Homo sapiens: one gene and its partners. The protein of the gene in region 3 interacts with the protein of the main gene of each other region in a pairwise test. Each region holds a gene or a part of one and is shown on either strand. Other genes may lie near its edges.

What was found.
Region 1: the proteins of CTTNBP2 (region 3) and PKNOX2 interact in binary tests that used the Homo sapiens proteins (3 or more experiments, as listed by UniProt).
Region 2: the proteins of CTTNBP2 (region 3) and BMAL2 interact in binary tests that used the Homo sapiens proteins (3 or more experiments, as listed by UniProt).

What each region holds. Positions count from the first base shown.
Region 1 is NC_000011.10:125,405,718-125,412,827, reverse strand, and holds part of PKNOX2 (homeobox protein PKNOX2), read right to left. Parts: intron 2,633-7,110; coding exon 2,503-2,632; intron 2,050-2,502; coding exon 1,952-2,049; intron 1,083-1,951; coding exon 963-1,082; intron 1-962.
Region 2 is NC_000012.12:27,328,140-27,335,838, reverse strand, and holds the start of BMAL2 (basic helix-loop-helix ARNT-like protein 2), read right to left. Parts: upstream 3,004-7,699; 5' UTR 2,767-3,003; coding exon 2,736-2,766; coding exon of another isoform or gene 2,703-2,735; intron 1-2,702. UniProt on the Homo sapiens protein: Transcriptional activator which forms a core component of the circadian clock.
Region 3 is NC_000007.14:117,710,075-117,716,475, reverse strand, and holds the end of CTTNBP2 (cortactin-binding protein 2), read left to right. Parts: exon of another isoform or gene 1-593; intron 594-4,693; coding exon 4,694-4,939; 3' UTR 4,940-5,825; downstream 5,826-6,401. UniProt on the Homo sapiens protein: Regulates the dendritic spine distribution of CTTN/cortactin in hippocampal neurons, and thus controls dendritic spinogenesis and dendritic spine maintenance.

The DNA of each region.
Region 1 (7,110 bases), on a different chromosome or scaffold from region 3:
CTGAAGAAGGATTTCCTCTTCCTCCTGATTCTTCCCACAGTTCTCCAGCCAATGGATCCTCAGTCCCTTGGAATTTGTCTTGTATCTGTGTCTGTCTGTCCTGACATGCCAGGGCAGGAGCTCGCAGACTAATGGAAGCCCGCCCGTGGTCACAGCATCTACCTCCCCACCCCAGAACACACACACACCAGCGCATACACACTCAGCACAGTCACTGGCCTTTATTTACTGCCACAGCCCTTGAAAGTGGTGTTGGGAGATTGCAATTTTGAAGTCTTTCCTGACATTCCACCAAAGGCTCGTCTTTTGCAACTAATGCTGCACACAAACACATAGCAACCTTCACACAGTATGCACTTCAGTAACACTCCACTGCAACCCGAGGTAGTGTGCCATTTTATAAAAGGAGCTGCTGCAGCTTATGAAAGAAATAGTGCTGTGTCCTGGAGCTGAGCTGTGACATGAGGAGCCAGGATTCCAGCCTTGGCGCCCATCTCCACCACACAGCGCTTGGCTCACCCAGTGGGGAGGACTCAGGAGTCCTGGCAGAGTCAACACATTCTTCCATGGGAGAGGGGCACGGTGAGCGTGGCTGCGGCAGGGGGAGGGCTCTGGACCAGAAACCACCCACTCCCCGCAGTGACCCTCTCTCTGTTCATGAAACAGTGTGACACACCTGCCCAGCACTTGACTCTTGAGCATGCACTTGTCCCCATTACCCCATGTGTTGCCACATTTTTTCCAGATAGCAACAGCAGCAGGTACTGGAGAAGGTCTCCAGCTTTAGGCCCCACCTGAGCCCCCCTGGCCTGGACTCCAGATGTCATTCCTATCAGAGAGCTCTCCCCGAGGCCGCGCCCTCTGTCTGTGGGTTTGGAGCCGACAGCAGAGTCTGGTACCCACACGGTGGGTTATTCATACCCCATGCCGGGACTCCACACCCCCAAGACACACACACTCACCATGAGATGCTGGAAGAGCCAAGAACGCATTATATTGGTGGCATGCTTGGGCAAGACTCCTCGTTTGTTCTTGGACTTCTTATCCTCATTGTCCAGGAGGGAGGTGAGGTCAAGGTTAACCTTCAGGGCACGTGGAGAGAAAATCAGCATCAGCAGCCTGTGAGGGCAGCGGCTGGGGACCTGTTGCCATAGCGACGGCAGGCTTGGCTGCCAGCCCCTTTCCCGGCTCATTCCTAGGGCCCTGGGGAGGTCACCTTTCCCTCTCAGCCCATGCCAGCCCCTCAGAGAGTGGAGGTGAGGCTTGGGTGATGGGAGAAGGGAAGAAGGACAAGGAGGAAGAGATGGGGAAGGGGGGGAGAGAGAGAGAGAGAGAGAGAGAGAGAGAGAGAGAGAGAGAGAGAGAAAGACAGAGGAAACAGGGCCATGCAGAGAGAACAGGAGAAGATATGAATTTGCCATAAGCTGTCAAGTAGTTATCAGCATTTCTGTGGTACTTTACAGTTTGCAAAGCACTTTCCTATCCATCGCTGTGGTTCATTCTCACAGCAGCCCTGTAGGTTGGCTAGGCTGTGTGCAGTTGCTATTAATCCCCCTTTTATCAATAAGAAGTCTGAGGCTCAGAGAGGTTAGGTGACTTATCAGAGATCCCAGAGTTAATGTCAGATCCCAGACTCTGACTTCCGATCTTTCTACTCTTCCTTTGTGTGTGCACTCTCTACCACTGAGGGACACAGCGGCTCAGTCTGCAGACAGGAATAGGAAGTGCAGGATCCTTTGATGTAACCCCAGGAGGGAGGCAGCAAAATCCCAGGAGTTGATAAAACCTTTCCAAGACCCAGCTTCTTATCTGTAAAGTAGGGGTAATGATACCTCTTAGAGGATGATGAGGATTCAATGAGTCACCCGTGTAAAGTGCCTGGCAGATAAGAAGCGATTACAGGTGCCCTAGCCCACACCATGCACATGTGCACACACCTACACACACTCACCTGTGTGTTCTGGATCTGGATGGCTCCCTGGGGGATTGCTTGGGTGACCACCTGACCCTGGGAGGTTACCATGGTAACCGGTTGGTATAAGGCTCCACCTGAGGAGACAACCAGTTTTGGGGTCCCCTGCCATGGGAGTGGGTAGGAGCGAGGGCAAGCAGGGTTCCCAGTTCATTTGGCACTCATGTGTAAAGACCCTCTACTTGGAGCCCTTGGGTAGCGAGCTATGGCTTTCTGCTTTATGGGTGGGTGGGGGATGGTGTCTAGAGCCTAGGACAGAGCCTCTGGTGGGAGGTGCTTCGGGGAAGGGACAACAGCCTTACTTGGTCCTCTCAGGGGCTCATGAGATTTTGACCCAAATTTGTTCTAAACCATCACAATTGGGTCTTGGCGCTAACCGTCTATAAACTTACAGAAAACTTTAGTCAAGAAACTGAGCTGGGAGCCCCTCCCTCGGTGGAGGACAACCCCCACCCCTGGAACCGCCTCGGGGCCACCCTTTCTCCTCCCAGGGAATTCCCACAATCACCCTTCCCAGTCTTTGCACCGACCTGACACAACTTGTGAGTTGACGGTTGTCATGGCGATGTTGCCCTGCTGGAGCGCTGAGGCTGGGACCACAATCCCCTGGGGGTTATTGGAGACTCCGGACATGGAATTGGGGGAATTCTGCAGGAGGTCCTGGCAGTGAGGGAGGCGTGGTTTGTGACAATGACACTGAGAGCTTAGACCCTACAGCCCCAGAGTCCTCTTCCGTCCTTTCCCCTTCCTGCCTGCCCCCCTCCCTCCTTCTAGCTCCTCCCCAGACCCAGGTCCAGAAGGCAACTCTCTTGGTTTCCTAGAAAGGGTGAATAAGAAGGCTCAATTAAAAAAAACAAAAACAAAAAGAGTCACCCATTTAACCATTCCATTGCCCTGAAAACCTAAGGCACAAATTATCTGATAACCCCCATGGTCTCCTCCTTGGCTGTACTTTGAAATCTCCAGTAATGATGCTTGGGTTCCAATCTCAGAGAGTCTCATTTAATTGTTCAGGAGTGTGTCCTGGGCTCTGGATTTTTTCTTGATCAGATCCATCATATTCAATGGGCTCCGGGTTATTAAAAGCTCCCCAGGTGATTCCACTGTCAGCCGGGTCTGAGAAAATGGCTTCACCTGGTCGGCACCTGCTCATCCTTCAGCGACGCTTGTCTCCTGATGCTTTCCCGTCCCCCGGCTGCTCTCCACACACCTCCATCACAGGCCTGTCACACTAGGCTGCACACACAGAGCAGCCTCCAGCTCTCACCTTTGTATCCTTAGCACCTAGCTCAGGATACTAAAATACATGTTAAATAAGCAAATGAAAGCCGCCCTAGCCTTCCCATAACCTGTCTTCTAAGGGTGTCTCATATGAGCCTCAGCCACCTTCGGCACATGGCATCGATCCTGTTCTCTTCCTCAGGCTGCCCACAGGATTCCACTGGAAACAGACTCTCCTCTCCCCACACTGCCGACCAGCACGGAACCTTTGCCGCTTTTCTTTGCGTTAGCCCAGGCAGGTAAGACATGTTTTCCTGGCCCTCTGCTCTCCTCACCATTCCTAGTTAACAGCTGGGTAAAGAAGTCCTTGGACTTGCTGTGGAGCCCTCCCTGCTTTCTGGGGAGCCTGCACTGGGAGGCTGGGTGCTTGGAGAGAATTTGTGAGGAAGGAATAGGATGTGGGAGAGGTTAGGGTCTCTAGGTTCGGAGAAGAAAAAAGGCAGCGAGTGAAGTGTGGGAGCCTCAGGAGGCCTGCCTGAGTCTCTTAGCTCCTCCTAGCCACGGTTCCTCATCTGAAGACGGGGCTTGAACCAGTTAACAGGTCCAATGGCCATTTCGGCGACATTCCCATGCTCAAATGCTGGAATCGTAAGGCGTGAACTGCAAGGATTTAGAGACAGGTAAATGGTCAAGGAAATAGACAAAATGGGGCAAAAAAGAAGGCCCCAGCTTCCCGGTTTTTGTTTTAGGACTTGAAGAAGCTTGGGTCTTCAGCCTCCAGGGCAAGTCTAGGGTTTTGAGCCCGGAAATCTGTGTTTGGAGGAAACCTCGAGCCAGTGACTGCCTACCTGTAGCAACGAAGGGAAAGTGTTACAGCCCGGGGGACAGCCATGGCGAATCTCCTCCCAGACCCTGACAACACAGAACCTGGCAGAGCCTGTCAGGAAGTGGAAGTCGGCACTGATTTATACATCTCACTCGATTCAGCTGATTAAATCCCCCTTGGCGTCTCCTCCAGAGCTGCCTTTTTTTACTCTCCTGGGTTGTCTCTGGCCCAAGAGCTGGAGGAGTATTTCCTATAAATAAGCAGCGCCAGGAGGAGAGGAGCCAAGCACGCCCTCCTCCCACCCACCTGCCGCACGGGCCTCCTGGTGTGGCTCCTCCGGGTGGGTGGGGCGATGGAGGCCTTGCTTCTATTCTGAGCTCACCTCTGCTGCTGTGACCTTGGGGAACAGAGGGGGCAGCTCTTGCCTTGGCTTCCCCTTCCTGGGGCCCCGTGGGAGCCGCCTAGCCCGTGAAGCTTATACTTTGAGCAGAGCTCTTGGCCTTTCTGTTCCTGCAGTCGCAGTCTAAAATGGAGTCTGCCATGCAGAAGCCTAGAAACTGGAAGAGCCCCTGGAAGCCACACATTTCCCCTCCCTGAAGTACAAATAAGGCACTGAGGTTTAGAGATGCCTGGGACTTCCCAAGGCCACACAGCCCGTTAGCAGCCAGAGGACTAGAACACAGATCTCCTTCACCCACAAATGCCCCCTACACCGGTTCTGGGCTGCAAATGCTCCTTGAATCCTGCAGGTCAACCAATCATCATTGCAGGCAAGGTGAACAGATAAAAACAACTAAAACTCAGAAGTCCAGAAGCAGCGTGGGCACTGGAGGAAAGGCAATCTCGTCACCACCCTTCTGTGGGCCTCATCTCCTTATGTATACAGTGCATGTGACACCGGGACCCTCAACGCCTGAGTTTTCAGCGATGAGACTGCTCTGAGTTTGAGTTCTCCTTGTTCCAACATCCCAGCCTACCATTCTCATGGTGTGTAAACCGTGCTGATATTATATTTGAAGCTGAAGCAAACTCGGAAGGTAAATTTACTTTTTTTTTTGTTTGTTTTTTGAGACAGGGTAGAGAGTCTTGCTCTGTTGCCCAGGCTTGTCTCAAACTTCTGGGGTCATGTAATCCTCCCACCTGAGCCTCCTGAGTCATGGGATTACAGGCGTGAGCCACCACACCAGGCTTGAAGGTAAATTTAATGGGGGAGTGGGTACCTCCATGCCATTCACCTTAAAACCAGTGGAAGTGACTTCTCAATCCCTTGTTTGGAATCATCCATGCTAGCCTGTGCCTCTTCTGGTAGGGATATTTGAGAATTTCAAACATAAAAGGTTGTCCTAGACTTTCTTCACCCCCAAAAAAGTACCCAACAAGGTTAGAAAAATACAAGCAAAGTCAGTAAAATAAATACAAGATGTGTCCCTTGGGATTCAACCAACACACATTGTTTCCTAGCCAAAGGCAGAGGGTGAGCCACCACCTGGATGCTTCGTCTGCTTACTCAGACCCTGGCTGCTTCTCCACCTTGTGGCTTGGATACCCTCCATGCCAATTTACCCAATTTGGGTAACTAAGGGCAATTTATGCATTGGATCAGAGCCTTCTCTTTCCTACCCTTCTCTCCCTTCCCTGGGTCTTTGGCTGGAAGGTGCTGAGAGGCAGCCAGATTCTATCAGTGAAGGAATAAAATAAAAACCTTCAGAGATAGAGTCCAAGGGCAGGGCTGGGACTGGCAACGTTTTAGGTGGGGCAGGGAAGAGGAAGCAAAATTTTGGCATCCCGGAGGTCTGGGGAAATGATATTCATCCCTTACATCTGTAAACATGAGCTGCTTCACAAACCTGCCTTGAGTGTGCTTTTTTTTTTTTTTTTTTTTTTTTTTTTTAGACATAGATTCTCAGGGCCACTGGGTCAAGACCCTCACCCATCATCTAGCAATCTATATTTCTAAAAACTTCCTTGTGATGGTCCCAAAGATCGTACACGCTGAGTATGAGAGAGCTTTCACCACGCTGTTCCATTTTAATGTCACCATCACCCCATGGGGTCAGCAGGACTGTCCTATTTGCCTGAAGAGAGATTGAGGTCCAGAGAGGATGGAAGTGACTTCCCAGAGTCAAATAACTGTGCCTCCAGCCTAAGGCCTCTGGCTCTGAGTGTAGGACGAGTGCTCACAGAGAGAGGATATGTGCTTCGGGGTCAGACAGGCTCCAATGCAAGCACAGTGCCTGGCACATTTAGCCATCCAATAATTTATTTCCCACTTCCCTTGGCTAAGGTCACTCAACTAGGGAGTCGTACAGTTGGGATTTAAAAACCTGTCCTAGAAGCCTTCAAGCCACTTGAGTTCTTTACGTAGCAATGGAAGGGGTTCAGCTGGGGTTGCGCACGCAGGCAGAGTTGTGCAAACCTGGCTACATGTCTCCCTGTCTGAGATGTTCCTGGGCAATGGTCGAGTCCCAGGATCCTAAGCATCGTCTCTGACTAGCCCCACAACTCCACTTGGCTGCGATTTCCAGTCCAGGCTTAGTCTCTAGAGCCGTGGAATGGAGACAAGGAGGGTCTGACTCTCTTTTCTGAGGAAGGAACTTCCAGAGCAGCGGTGGAAACCCCGTGGGGAGCACATGTTGGCTAAGCACACAGTATTATTAGCTTTTTGACAGCTTCCCCTCAGGGCTTATCAGACTCCAAACCCAGGTAGATGCCACTGTGTCTAGACACAGAGTTGCTCCCCTCTAGGCTCCTTAGCACCCAGATGGAAGTGAGAAGAGTGTTTGGTACGGTTCTAGTTACTTTTTTCAGCACCCAGAGCCTCACATCCCTGCTGGAATTATCCAGGAACCTGGGGATGACAGCTGGTTATCCAGCCCAAGAATTCTGTTCGTTTTGTTCCACTAGGAAGACAGCCGTGGTGTCCCCAAGCCTCTGGAAACTGCCTGAGGCCTGGGAATCAGATGAAAACCAACACGCCGGGCTCCATGGGCACCCCTGGAAGCGGCCCCACTCCTGTTCCTTGTGTGCTGTTGATTGAGACTCAGAAGCAGGAGCCTCTCAGGAGGGGCAGAGCAAGGCAGGGCTTTGGGTT
Region 2 (7,699 bases), on a different chromosome or scaffold from region 3:
TGGCAGTCCCTCCCCTCCTCCCCTTCTCCTTCCTTCACTCTCTCCTTCCTCCTCCTTTCCCCTCTCCTCCTCTCTTTACTTCACACCTCCTCTCTTGCCTTCTCCCTCCTCTCACTCTTTCTCTCTTTCCTTCTCTATTTTCCTCCCCCTTAAATATGTGAAAAGTAATTAGCCCATCCTGGTTTATCTTGAATAATGCATTTCTGGCTGAAATTTTGCCCAAGGATCCATGCCAGTAACAGGAGCTTAGGCAAAATTGATTGGGACATGACGTTTGATTTCTGACTCACAAAGTAAATTTAAACCACTGTAATTGCAGAACTACATGTAAAAGAATTGGATCTTACACTATCATAGGTGAAAACATGAGCTGGTAAGAAAACGGAAGGTGAGAAAGCTGCCCCACAGAGGCCTCAACCCCAGACCATCTCTGGCAGTGAGTCTTGGAAATGTGCTGCTCCCCAAGACTGCCCTCTTCCTACCCCAAGGATTCTGGAATCATTTATTAGGAGGACACCCAGTCACTTGGCAGCATGCTCAATTTCGGTGTTTACCATCTAAAACTGATGGGGTGGGGAAACCCATAGTTTGGTTTACACTGTTAAAAAAACACAAAACAAAACAAAACAAAACAAAGCAAAACAAAACCTTAGGGCTAGTTTTGTAGATGGCCACCAACTGGCCCAGAGGCCTGTTTTTGTTTTCCCTCTGGGAATAGGGAGAAATAGTAAAAATACATATACATTTTTTCCTCCTAGAGGTTTCGTTGAGCGTTCTATTTTTTACTACTCTTTAGATAAGCAGGTGTCTGGAAGTGAGCACACTTGCTCATTAGCACCACCAAGTCAGATGGGAAAGAAAAGAAAGGAGTATGGGCGACAGCCATGGATTTTAACTCTAGTTCTGTCATGTCCTGGCTGTATAACTGTGAGCCAGCCTCAGTTTTCTCATCTGTGAAATGGAGATACTACCTACCTCACAACGCTGTTGTAAGACTAACAGAAGCACCCCTGTGAAATGTCTGTGACATCTTAGGTACTCATACCTGCGGGCTCTCCCAGCCCGCACAGAAACATTGCTACCCTTAATTAAGAAAATTTAATTTTTATTATTCCCAGCTTTACATTTGGTATGCAAAGAGCAATAAACTATTAATCTAAAATAGTTAGATAAATAGCATTAAACTTTATCTAAAAGCTTGTTGTAAGTTCGTAAGACTTATCTGGGGAATTAGTAGGTGCATTTTCTTTGAATTAGTAGGTGCATTTTCACTTCCTTTCAGTTTGGCCAATTTTAACTCACAAGGGACAACACTTTCTTAATGGACCAGACAGCACTCACCAATTTCACAAAGCAAATTGAAGTTGTAAATTAATAACTACATTAAGTTAATGTTTTATGAAGCACTTACTATTTCCTAAGTATTGGGCTAAGCATTTTATTTGCATTCATATCTCATATCTCATTTACTCCTAACAATCCTATAAGGCAGACTGCATAGTTATCTCCATTTTACAGATGGGGGAACTTAGACTAAGAGATTTCAAATAACCTGGGTGACACAGACAGTAAAGGGCAGAGCTCAGTCACAAGACGGAGCAGAAAGGGTGTCAGAGCTTATAAACACCACACGTGCCATCTTCTATTTTCAACAAAGGGTTTACCTAAGACTACGAATATTCAAATGATCGAATTTCTGAAATCGCCCCATGATGTAAATTCCCACAATTATATTAGAATTTCGAAAGCCACCTCCTCTCATTGCCTTATTTCAGAGAAGAATCTAAAACTCTATCATCTTATTCCAAAAGGAAAGGGGAGAATTAACTGCTTCCCTGAACTTCTCTGCCAGTCTTCCTTCAGTTATTTCTGTTTTCCTGCCTCTCATTTGTCTTAAACAACAGCTATTTTGTATTCATTCCGTAATTGTGAGCAGTGGTCCCAAAGGCCCCGTTGTAAGGAACTACAGAATACTGCCAGTGAATACTAGCGAGAAGGAAAAAGCACCGCAAACTTCCAACTCCATTCACAAAAATACCACAGAAATACATAATCGAACAAGCTAACTCCACTGACGGCTTTCCTGAAGCTTCAGCGGTGAAAGACACGAGCCGCCTGTCGCTTATGGAGGGCTGTCGCGGAGCGGGCTGCGATCCCGGAGTGTGGCCCCGCGTCCACGCGCACCTGCCCACCTGCGCGCTCCACCGCGGGGCAGCGGTTCAAGCCGGGAAGCCGCGAGTATTATCAGCTCAGAGGGGAGGGGTTCACAGGAACCGGGCTAGGTCCGAGGCTGCTGACAACTGGTTTACACAAAAGAAAGAAGAAATATAGGAAGTCCCCGCAGCAGTGCATGCCATGCCGACGCCGACGCGGGCGCCCAGCAGTGGGTGGAGGCGGATGCTCCCAGCGCCGGGTGCAAGGTCCCCCGCTGGCTCCCTTTCGCCAATGCGCCCGGCCCGGGACCAAGACACCGCGTCCTGAGCGCCGGCGGCGACCCCAGCTCCCCTCCCCGCGTCCCGCTCCCCGGGAGGACGCGCCGGGCGCCGCGCCGCACCTGTGCCCCACGGGGCGGCCTTGTCCCACCGCCCCTCGGAGGCGATGCTCCGGCCCGAGAGGACAGGCGCGGGCGCTTCCCTCGGGGCAGCGGGGGCAGACCTGGCGTCGCGGGGACGCCCCCAGCGCGTCAGACGCCGCGCGCCCACCTGGGGCCGTCGCCTCGCCACCGGCAACCTCACCTCCCGCCGCAGCCTCCTCTTCCGCCGCCATCGCAGGAGCCACTTGGTCGGCTCCGCAGCCCCGCGGCTGGCAGCATGGAGGAGCCCCGGGCCCGCCCTGCCCCGGCCCAGGCGGCGGCTCTGGAGCAGGGAAGCGGGGACTGGCGGGCCCTGCCGGGTGCCGCGGCGGCCGCCACCGCAGCCCGTAGGCGCGCACGGGACGCCGCCCCGCAGCCCGGCCGGCAGCAGCTACTGAGCATGCGGACTGGAGCCAGCCGCCCGCCGCTCTGGGCGCCGCGGGGCTTCCCGGCGGGAAAGAGACCCGGGCCAAGGGCGGAGTCGCTGCGGACACCGCCCCGCCGAGCCCTCCCGCGAGCAGCAAAGCACTAAAAGGCCAGTTGAGTCCTTCTAGCAACCACCCTATTGAAAACAGGCTTCCATGCTCATAGTAAGCTTTGTCCCAGCATTCCGAAGATTGCAGTTGTTAGACCCTCGGGGCAAAGGTAAAGGATGAATGAAGATAATTGCACGGTGGGTTAGCGGAGGGCACGGGGCTAGGGTTGGGGAGGAGGGTGCTGGACGAGAGACCCTGCTCTTTTCTGCTTAAGGAAGGGCTTAGCTGCAGAGACGAGAGTGTAGATGACAGAGAGAGGGTCCCGAGGAAGCCGTTTTGCCTCCTGGAACGGTTGGGTAAATCCAGAAACAAGATCTTTTGGGCATCACTTGACAGCCCTACATCCTATGGCCACGTGTCTAGAATACACTGGTTTGCTGCCCTCCCACTGGTCCCTAGACCCATTCCTTGGTAATCTAGTAGAAGTAAGTAAAGGAAAGTCACAGTAGAGAAGACACCAAATCAAACTTTGCAACCAGCCTAAAGGTAATAACTTTCCTACAAGGACTCAATTCCAACGTCTTAACCAGCACCTTATGTGTCCTCAGGGCAGTACTTAGGGCCATTGTGAGAGGCTGGGCAGAGGGTTTGGAAGTGTGTTCCCAAGCAGAAGTGGGCATGACAGGAGAAAACTGTTGCAGGCTTAAGCAGGGGCTAGGACTTTAGAGGTAAGGGAGACGTGCTGAAAACTGTGCTGTCCTCAACACACACCAAGACACATCCCTAATCAAAACCAGTCTTGAAACGTCTCATTCCTAGCTTTGACTTGGAACTCCACCCCAAATTCTACCAACACCAACTTCTCCTGGCAGCTAGAAACAGTAATTCCATACAGGGTTTCCCGAATGTGATCAAACCTTGGCTTTCCAGACAAGTGTACACTATTTTGAGGTGGTTTACCAAGGGGTAACAGGTAGAATTAATTAGACCTGGGCTTTAAGATCTGGGTTAAAATGTAAATACTATTCTATACATGGCCTTGCTTACAATGCATTTTCCCCCTTATCGGCTCAGTGAGCCTCACAACCTCTTTCTTAATTCCTGTCTTAGTAGAGAAACAGAAGTTCAGAGATGTCGAGTATTTTGGCCAGGATCACTCAGCTAGTAGATAGTAGAAGCAAGACCATAAAAGTTAGGTCTCCTTCTTAGGAGTTCCTATTGTGGTGTCCAGTAAGCTTGCCTGTGAATCATTGCAGTCCCCGTTTCTTAGAAACGATGATTCACTTCCACCAAAGCCTGAAAGCAAGAGAAGGGGAATCCAGAATCTAAAATACGAAAGCAGGAAGGGTAATAATGCACAAACAAAGCCGACCTACAGCATTCCATGGGGCACAACCCTTTCATTGCTTAATAGGTATTCCCCTTACTGCTCAGGTTTAAAGCCTGCTTGCTCTCTTTTTTTCTTTATGCTCTGGAGCTTTACTTTCTAAGACATGATTTTTTTGTTTTTTAAAGAGTAGCTATATAACCCATAGGATAAGGCAGAGAGACATATAATGTCTTGCCAGATGGATAGGAAGGTAATCTCTCATTTCCAGTGAGTGGTTTTCTCATATTTTCAACTTGGAAAAAAAAATGTGAGAAAGGTGATTGGATGATTTGTATAATAGAATGCTAGAGAATTTGTGTAATAGAATGCACACAGTTCCTTCTGGTCAGCATGGTTCCCCTGCCAAAAGCCCTGGAGCTGCCTTGCTCTCCAGGAATCATTGCTTGCCTTTCACTTAATTTGTTCATTAATTTTCTTTCATTGCTAAGTACTCAGGCAAGAACAAATATTTTAAAGGTGGAACAAATACTCCTTTGTCCATCTGGAATTAGGAACCACGGCCTCACAAGCTGTAAACTCCTGTCCTTTTAGCATTCTGCTGGGATTGTAACAATATAACTTAGATTAGAGAGGAGTCCCTAAAGCCACTTAGATATTGTATTTGGTCCAAGAACAACAACAACAACAACAACAACAACAAAAAACAACAAGATAGAACCCAAACCCAAAACAACAAAAAACCACACCTGCTTCAGAGTGTAATTAAATTGAAGATACTATTTCCAATGATGCATAACAATAAATAACACAGAAGCCAGGAAGGGGAGAGAAGAGGGGGTGGAAAACAACAAGGGGAAAAGAAGGCTGAACATATATTTATTACCATTGGGAACTGTACACTTAAAATGGTAAAGATGGTAAATAAAAAAAAAACATTACATAGGCCGGGCATGGTGGCTCACGCCTGTAATCTCAGCACTTTGGGAGGCCACGGCAGGCGGATCACGAGGTCAGGATGTGCAGACCGTCCTAGCTCACACGGTGAAACCCCGTCTCTACTAAATATACAAAAAATTAGCTGGGTGTGGTGGCGGGCACCTGTAATCCCAGCTACTCGGGAGGCTGAGGCAGGAGAATTGCTTGAACCCAGGAGGGGGAGGTTGCAATGAGCTGAGATCACGCCACTGCACTCCAGCCTGGGTGACAGAGCAAGACTCCATCTCAAATAAATAAATAAATAAATAGCAACTACCCATTATTGATTTCCTAAGTGACTGGGGAAAATAAATTATTAATGTTTAAAACTACCTTTTCTTCCTACCCTGCCCCCAGCATCCTGTGGAGGGTGAATCCTGGGGAAGATGCTTGGATTTGCTGGGCAGATTGATGAGTGCAGTTTGGAGAAACAAGTAGGCCAACACTCTCCCATATGTTTAGAGAGAGAAGAGGATCTATGGTGGGCTTCTGGTATAGGAAAGATGAGCTTGAGCATGGTCTAAGGGAAGGAAAAGCAGAGAGGTAATTGGAGGACAGAGCATTCCTGAGACAGAGAGGGTGGTAAAGGAGGTGGTGCAGCTGCCTTAAGGAGAGGAAATTTGCTATCTTTTTTTAATTTTAATTTTTTTTTTACATAGAGTCTCGCTCTATCGCCCAGGCTGGAGTGTAGTGTGATTTCGGCTCACTGCAACTCTGCCTCCCTGGGTTCAAGCGATTCTCATGCCTCAGCCTCCTGAGTAGCTATGATTACTGGCATGTGCCACCACACACAGCTAAATTTTTTGTATTTTCAGTAGAGACGGGGTTTCACCATGTTGGTCAGGCTGGTCTCGAACTCATGACCTCATGTGATCTGCCTGCCTTAGCCTCCCAAAGTGCTGGGATTACAGGCGTGAGCCACTGCACCTAGCCAGGAAATTTGAGATATCTTAAAGCGGTATTTAGGGAACTTCATTGTGTAATGCAAACCCTCTTACATTATTTCCCTGGAAAATAACAACTTCAGCAAAAGCTGCATTCATTTTCTCAATGCTTTTGGAGTCGTATTTATGTTTTTATTAAAAGTGAAAACATTTTGAGATTGGCCTTAGGTGGAAAGCAGGGCCACCCACAAAAATAGTCATTTAATTAACTTGTTCACATGTATTTATTGAGCACCTGCTGTGTGCCAGGCACTGTTGTAAGCACTGACTTCTGTATTTTACCTACTGTGCATCAGTTACTTTATATATATATATTCTCACAAAAACCAATGAGCAGGTATTAGTTTCTTTTTCTGTTAGCTCAGTGGTTCCCAAAATTCAATGTACATGAGAATGTGCACAATTTTAGACCCACCCCCAGAGACTGATTTAGTAGGTTTGGGGTGAATCACACTAAGTCCTTATTTCAAATGTGCTTCCTAGCTGATTTTGAAAGTTGCTCTGAGTACTCTCATCTAGGAAATACTGCTTTAACTTATCAAAAATCAATTTTCTTAAGCTGGGTTGTTGCAGTATGGTATGTACACCGGGGAAGCAGCGGGGAGAGAAGCAGTATTTCTTAGGGACAGGAATAGCAATATACTAAAATTCTGAGCAAACTGCAAGGAAGGACAAAACTTAGGACAAGAATGAGGGAATAGTTGTGCACACATCTACTTTTATGTGGAGTTGCTTACACTTTTTCCCTTAGGGATTATGCGTTTGTATGTGTGTATAAGCATCAATAACTCAACTGATGTTTACTTTTACAGTTTTTAAACACTCTTAAAGCAGTTATGGTATCCCAAGTCTTCCTCAGTCCTCTCGGTATTATATACAATCATACAAGAGGGTTCTCCAAGTTCTGTTCCTGATTTTTTTACCCAAGAAGACAAAAAGGCTGGATGCGGTGGCTCATGCCTGCAATCCCAGCACTTTGGGAGGCCAAGCGAGCACATCACTGAGGTCAGGAGTTTGAGACCAGCCTGGCCAACATGGTGAAGCCCCGTCTCTACTAAAGATACAAAAATTAGCCAGGCACGGTGGCAGGAACCTAATCACAGCTAGTCGGGAGGCCAAGGCAGAATTGCTTAAACCTGGGAGGTGGAGGTAGCAGTGAGCCAAGACCACGCCATTGCACTCCAGCCTGGGCGACAGAGTGAGACTCCGTCTCAAAAAAAAAAAAAAAAGATATTAGGCTGAGTATTGACAGTTTACTTTTCCTACCATGAGTTTCTCCCTTTTGAAGAGACTTACAAGTCTTCCTGTGTTTAGGAGTTTGATCATGAATGTTAAGAGGTAAAGTAATTCAGATAACTTGATGGTAGTTTAGCAATCTCACCTGAGAAATGTTTAATTTTCA
Region 3 (6,401 bases):
CTCTAGGACCCAAGAATTTAGGATTCCTTGTGGAACATCGTCAGTGGAAGGGGCCAGGAGGATCTTAGCAAGAGGAACAGTGAACCACCTTCCCCATAAGCCCAAATCACTTTCTTGTGTAAAAATAGAGAATGGCTGCTGCTTAAATGTCTAATAAAGAAACAAACATTGTCATACCCCTATTTCTCTGTCACATGACCATATTGAGTTGCTACAATAAGGTACTGTCCACAAAAAAAAAGTAGTACTGAAAGTCAAAGTTCTGGGCAGCTTTGTTTAAGATATTTTTTAAAGCGAGTCCTTTTATACTATCTGGGCTCTTATACAAAGAAAAAAAAACTATGTTATTGTTTAAATGTGCAATTTGATGTGGGAATTAGGACCGCTGCCTCCTAGTCTTCTCTCCCTTTGCCCACTGAAGACACTTATTTGGAGGGACTCTTCCCCAAGAGCTAGATGATGTTTTTCTCAGAAAGTGCCAGCAGAGGGCAAAGTGGTACTTACTGTTGGCAGCCTTCTGAAACCTTGACTGGCTGATGCCTTTTCTCTTCTCCTACTCAGCTGGTATTTCTGGGTTAGATGCCCAGTTTCTTCTGTTATCAGGAAGTATCTCCATTTAGAGGTAAGAGTTTCCTGGGTTAGTTGAAATCACTTTCTCCTTCATGGCCAGAAGGCTGGCAATGCCTCCATTGAAGAGGGGCCCTGCAACCATCATTATCTGTTGGAAAACAAAAATGAGTAAGTTATCTTTATTATTTGCAACAATATAACTCCTCACTGCTCTAACAGTAAGGGAGAGTAATTGGGTTTACTAATCAAGTGGCATTTAGCAGGCCTTCTGAATTAAAAACAAATATACATATTTAAATCAACAGGAAGAACAAATGTTAATAAATGTTTTCCTTTTATGTAAATCCAAACTAATCCTCTGAAAGGACAAGTTCACATCTTTGGTTGCATGATGAAATCCACTTGAGGCTTCTTTTTTTTTTTTTTTTTTAACTTCAGGGCCTGGACTCTAGTCTGAGGGGAAGCCTGGACAATGGGTTTTTTAAAGGTCCCTGGTGATTCTTACATGCATCCAGGGTTGAGACCCACTGTTCTAAAACATAGCCCTGATCTGTCATCTTCATTTTCCACCCATTTCTTTCTTTCCAAATATATCTTTAGAGGGATTGAGATGCCTTCATGTAGCTTTTCACATGTTCCTTTTTTACATGTAATTTACTACTTCCCTCTGTACTCCTCCCCATAGAACCTTCTCTCGTCACAGTCCTGTGCCTCTTTAAAGACTCACCCCCAATGCCACCTTCCCTACATGTTGTTCTTTTCCTCCTGCCCCTAACTTTCCCATCTAGAGGAATTACAATATCTTCTTAGCTTCTAGTAGATGCTGTGTATTGAATGAATTGCTCTGATTTACCAATTCTTTAAGGCTAAATAAAACTTACTTTAGGTCAGTGCCTTTCTACACAAATTAGTTTTTGAGTTTAACATGCACAGCAATATGGATAGTAAACGTTATACATTTAATACAGATAATTCGGGGGTTTTAGCCCAGGAAGCATTAAACACCTGTAACTCTCCTGCTCCTAAACTCCGCTGCCCCCTAGGCTTGACTTCCAGGGTGTCAGGAGCACTTTTCAGGCAGGATGCTGTGCATTGGTCACCTGCTCTATTCTTGCACTCCTGGCCTTGAATTGCTGTGGCTCACGCTAAGCCCAAGTGATTCTCCATGTTCTCATCCTAACTCCTTCCATTCTAGCCTCACACTTCCAGGGACTGACCAAACTACATGTTTTTAGTTGTTCTGGGTACTTCTCAGTACTTTATTTCATGTGGATATTTCCTGCCTCAGACCATGAAGGTACACTCCCCTCACCATCATGTTGCAGGTACAGAAACAGACTAGAACAGTGTATGTCTCCTTTCCTTCCTCTGGGCCATGGCATTAATTAACTCTGTAGATTTGACAATAATGGCAAAATTAAACAACTCCCCTCACCACCAGATTCTGTATAGCAACTAACTGTTATCCTTATTATAATGCCATATTTCATGTTTTCTGAATACTACGTATGTGTTGCATTTGCTGGTGTTTTAAACCAAATTACAAGTTCTAATTGGCCTTAGTAGGCCCATGACCAAGTCCCATTTTGCGGACTTAACAGTAATTTCTTGTTAGGAAAAATGAGATTGGATCCTGGTACCTGCACTGTTTTTACAGTTGTGACTATCACCATCCAACTCATGACAAGCAATGTAACTTCTCATTTTCTTTCTGGTAACTTGACAGCATAAGCATCTTTACAAAACAAAAGCAGAACATACTAAGCAGATTCGCCCTTAACATACCATCAAGTACACATGGAGGTGACGAGGATGGACTAGGATGTGTTCCCTCACCAGATGTAGCTCAGCCTTTTTCCAGGCTTCCTCGGACGTAGTTAAAACCGAGCCCATCTGTTTTTTGTTTTATCAGGAAGCTCTTGCCTTTCTAAGCTAGCTTCTTGCAGTCTAGACTTCTCTTTCCTTTCCCTGTAAATGCAGGTGGCCTGGACCCCAGATTTGTCCCCTCTTTATTCTCCATTACATATTTGTTGTTTCAGTGTTTTTATATTTTCCCAAACCACTAGCCAAGTATATATTAGAGTTACATTGCTGTTCCACTTAAGATTAGCTGAGTCTGAAAATCTGACCCCAAGAGATTTCACTTTGGTGATTTAGGGGTAGTTTAATGAACATGTTGTGTTGGGCTTTAAAGAATTAGGACTTTAACAGGGAAGTAAAGGAAAAATAGGATTTAAAGGGGATTGGAGCCAAACTTTAAAAGAACTTTAGTGACATGCCAGTTAGTGAGGACTTATCCTTTACCTTCCTATTCACACAAACACAGCCATAATTCTCTGCCCATTTTGTGGGTAACATTGGATTAGGTTGGTGAGGAGAGAGAGAAAGGCAGCTGCTAAAGATAACTGAGGATTTCCTGCTAAATTCACTGGGAGAGCAGCATTAGCCAGTAATGAGCCAAGCGGAAAGGCTTTAGAAATTAGTATTGAAGAAATGCAATAAATACAGTTTTAGAAAGAATTTGAAGTGTGGCTAGACATATAGGTGAATTAGTGGGGTGGAAATGCAGGAGATAAATGAGGGCTAAAGAAAGAACTTTGGGAAATACTTAGAGCTTGAAATACTCTGAAGGGAAAGATTATCAATGTGTGACTTATAGAGGGCTAAGAAAAATGCTACCATTTAGGACAGCAGTCCCCAGCCATTTTGGCACTGGAGACTGGTTTCGTGGAAGACAATTTTTCCACGGACCTGGGTAGTTTCCGGATGAAACTGTTCCATCTCAGATCTTTAGGCATTAGATTCTCGCAAGGACTGGGCAACCTAGACCCCTCACTTGCACAATTCACAAGAGGGTTTGTACTACTATGAGAATCTAATGCTGCTGATCTGACAGGAGGCGGAGCTCAGGTGGTAATACTGGCTCGCCCCCGCTCACGTCCTGCTGTGCTGCCCAGTTATTAATAGGCCATGGACTGGTCCACAGCCTGTGGCTTGGGGACCCTTGATTTAATTGCTCAATGGAGAAAAAGGATAGTGAGGAGTTAAGCTAGGCGTTCTTTGGCCGCAAGATTTTTTAAAATCGTATGTCCATGCCACACCCCAGAACTATTAAATATGAATCTCTGGTAATAGGGCCCAGCCAATGACTATTAAAGCTCCCCCAGGTGATTCCAATGTCATATAAGACGATACCCAGGAGAATGCAACTGCCGCAACTGCCAGATGAAGCCAGATTTTTCCTGTTAAATTTTAGTTTTGTTTTAAATTCTTGTAATGGTTATATTGCTGTTGGGTGCATTATTACTTTTGAAGAGGAGAAGTTATCAAGGTCAACTCCTTCAGAGGCATTCAGAGTAGGTCACTTAGTAGGAGTCATGTCATGTTTGTTAGTTTGCAGAATTTAATGCAATATAGGGAAAATACCTTGAGTGAAAGTTGGGAGACCTGAGGTCTTGTCCCAGCTTCACCACTCCGTTCACTGTGGGCAAATCATCTTACCTATCCAGCTCTCAGATTCTTCATGGGCAAAATGAGAGACATTGACCAGGTAATCACAGGATTTCTGAAACATTAGAGAAATGAGAACATGCAGCTTCCAAGTATGGAAGATCTTGAGTGGCCTAACCATAGATGAATGTAGGTTCTGCTAGGGAAGGAATGTTTCTCTTATGTTTTCTCCTATATGCCCCCAGATTATTTGATTATTGAGTAATAGTTCACTTTTAAGACTTGAAAGTAGAAAGCAGAAAAGTTAGGTGATTTACCCAAGGTGACATAGTTTGTAGAGCTACCTACAAATGGGACTACTCCAATTTGGTGATTTCCTCATGCCTGTAATTTTGTGAAGTTTCTGTTGGTAAGGAGATCGACGCCTTAGCACTTGATTCACTGACTCCTGTATTTAGGAATTTTGTAACAGCAGATGGATTAATGAAAATCATGCAGTAAGTCTATAGGAAATTAATTACTCAGCTTCTCCTCTCCATTTTCTTTTGATTTTTCACGAGAACCTATAGTTTTAGAGAGAAACTCCTGTACATTTGCTCAAAGAGGAGGCAGGGGTAGGGCTCATAACAGGAGAAGTTTGTGATAAACTTGTGTGGTTTCTTGTCTCTTACAGGAGGTCAGTCCTCTCAGCAGCCATCAAACTACTGAATGCAGCAACAGTAAATCAAAGACTGAGTTGGGTGTTTCAAGAGTTAAATCTTTTCTTCCTGTTCCTAGAAGTAAAGTCACCCAGTGTTCCCAGAACACCAAAAGAAGCAGCAGCAGCAGTAATACAAGGCAAATAGAAATCAACAACAACTCAAAAGAAGTGAATTGGAACTTACACAAAAATGAACACCTAGAAAAACCTAACAAATAGGCCTGCCTACAATATTCTCATTATTAACTTCCTCTATTTCACACAGAAACCAAGGACAACAAGATACAAATACCTTTAAATTGATAAAATGTTTTCACTGTAATATAAATTATGAGTGCGGGACCACTATTCAATTTTTTTTTGTAAAGAATGTATTTATAACCAACATTTTGTTGCTTTTTTTTTTAATTCTGTAGGATTGAACTTCAATACCAGGAAGTTATGCCAACTTTTCAAGTAGTTTTATAATAGAAAAATTGTAATAGTTTTAATCAAGATGTTCAGGGGTATTAAAACAGAACTGTGTACTGTATATCTGTATATATGTATATATGTATGTATATTTAAGGAAGTCCAGAAATCATACTGCATACATGCTACAAAAAAGTAGCAAAAAAGTACAAAGTTGGCTTAGATAACTTGTACCGTTTTAAATGGAGATCATAATTTTATGTTCACTTGATGGGGAATGACTAGAATGGGGCAATAACAAATCATTTCTAAACAGTTATTTTCCATTAAAAGCCATATTAAGTATTTTGCTTGTTAAATTCTAGTTTTATGTTTTAAATCTCTTAGTGGTTACATTGCCATTTGGTAGCATCATGTATATATTTATGCTTATAAGTTTGCATTATGACTCCTGTAAAATATGAAATTATAATGCAATAAAAGTGTTATCTTTCTTACAAAAGTTTTGTACCTAAGTGGATATAGATAACTGCATAAATGAATAAATTCAGAATTAACTCCTTCAATATTTCTAGTAGCACAACTGATAATATTGATATTTTCTACAAATGTTACTTCTAAAATTACAGACAAAATTACTTACACAATTCAGTTAAGATGCTTTGACACTGAATAAAATATTGATTTCATGAAATCATTTTGCTGTACTTTTTATCTATAGCTCTTTGTAGTCTCTGTAACAGATAATTTGTGTTCAATTTATCAATGCTCATAAAACTTGCCCTCCCATGTTAGTATTTCACTAGCTGTTCACAACAAGACTCAACCCTAATTAGAAACATCTTAAATACTTAAATGGAGCACCAGGAATTGGGTGCTCAGAGTTAAAACACCTTCCTTTTTTTTCATAAATACCAAAGAAGTATGATTTTGTACCAAGAATCATTTACTTGTCCAAAGTCATTGAAAGCCTTTTTTTCGCCAGAATGGTTATTTACAATGAAGTGTACATACCTGCATTGTATTGCTGTTACAAAACTGCACATACCTTAAAAATAACAATATGTAGTAAAGATTATGTCACTGATCTTGAGAACAAAACTGAATGCTGTCAAAATCATAGATCATATCTAGATTCAGGTGGCTCTAATGTGGTTTTTTTCCTGCTCACATACACCTGCTTAGATTATATCTAATTTGATTTGTTAGTGATAAGGCATTGTGTTTTATATTAGCAGCTTTTCTGAAGATAAAGATCCCATTAGTGTAC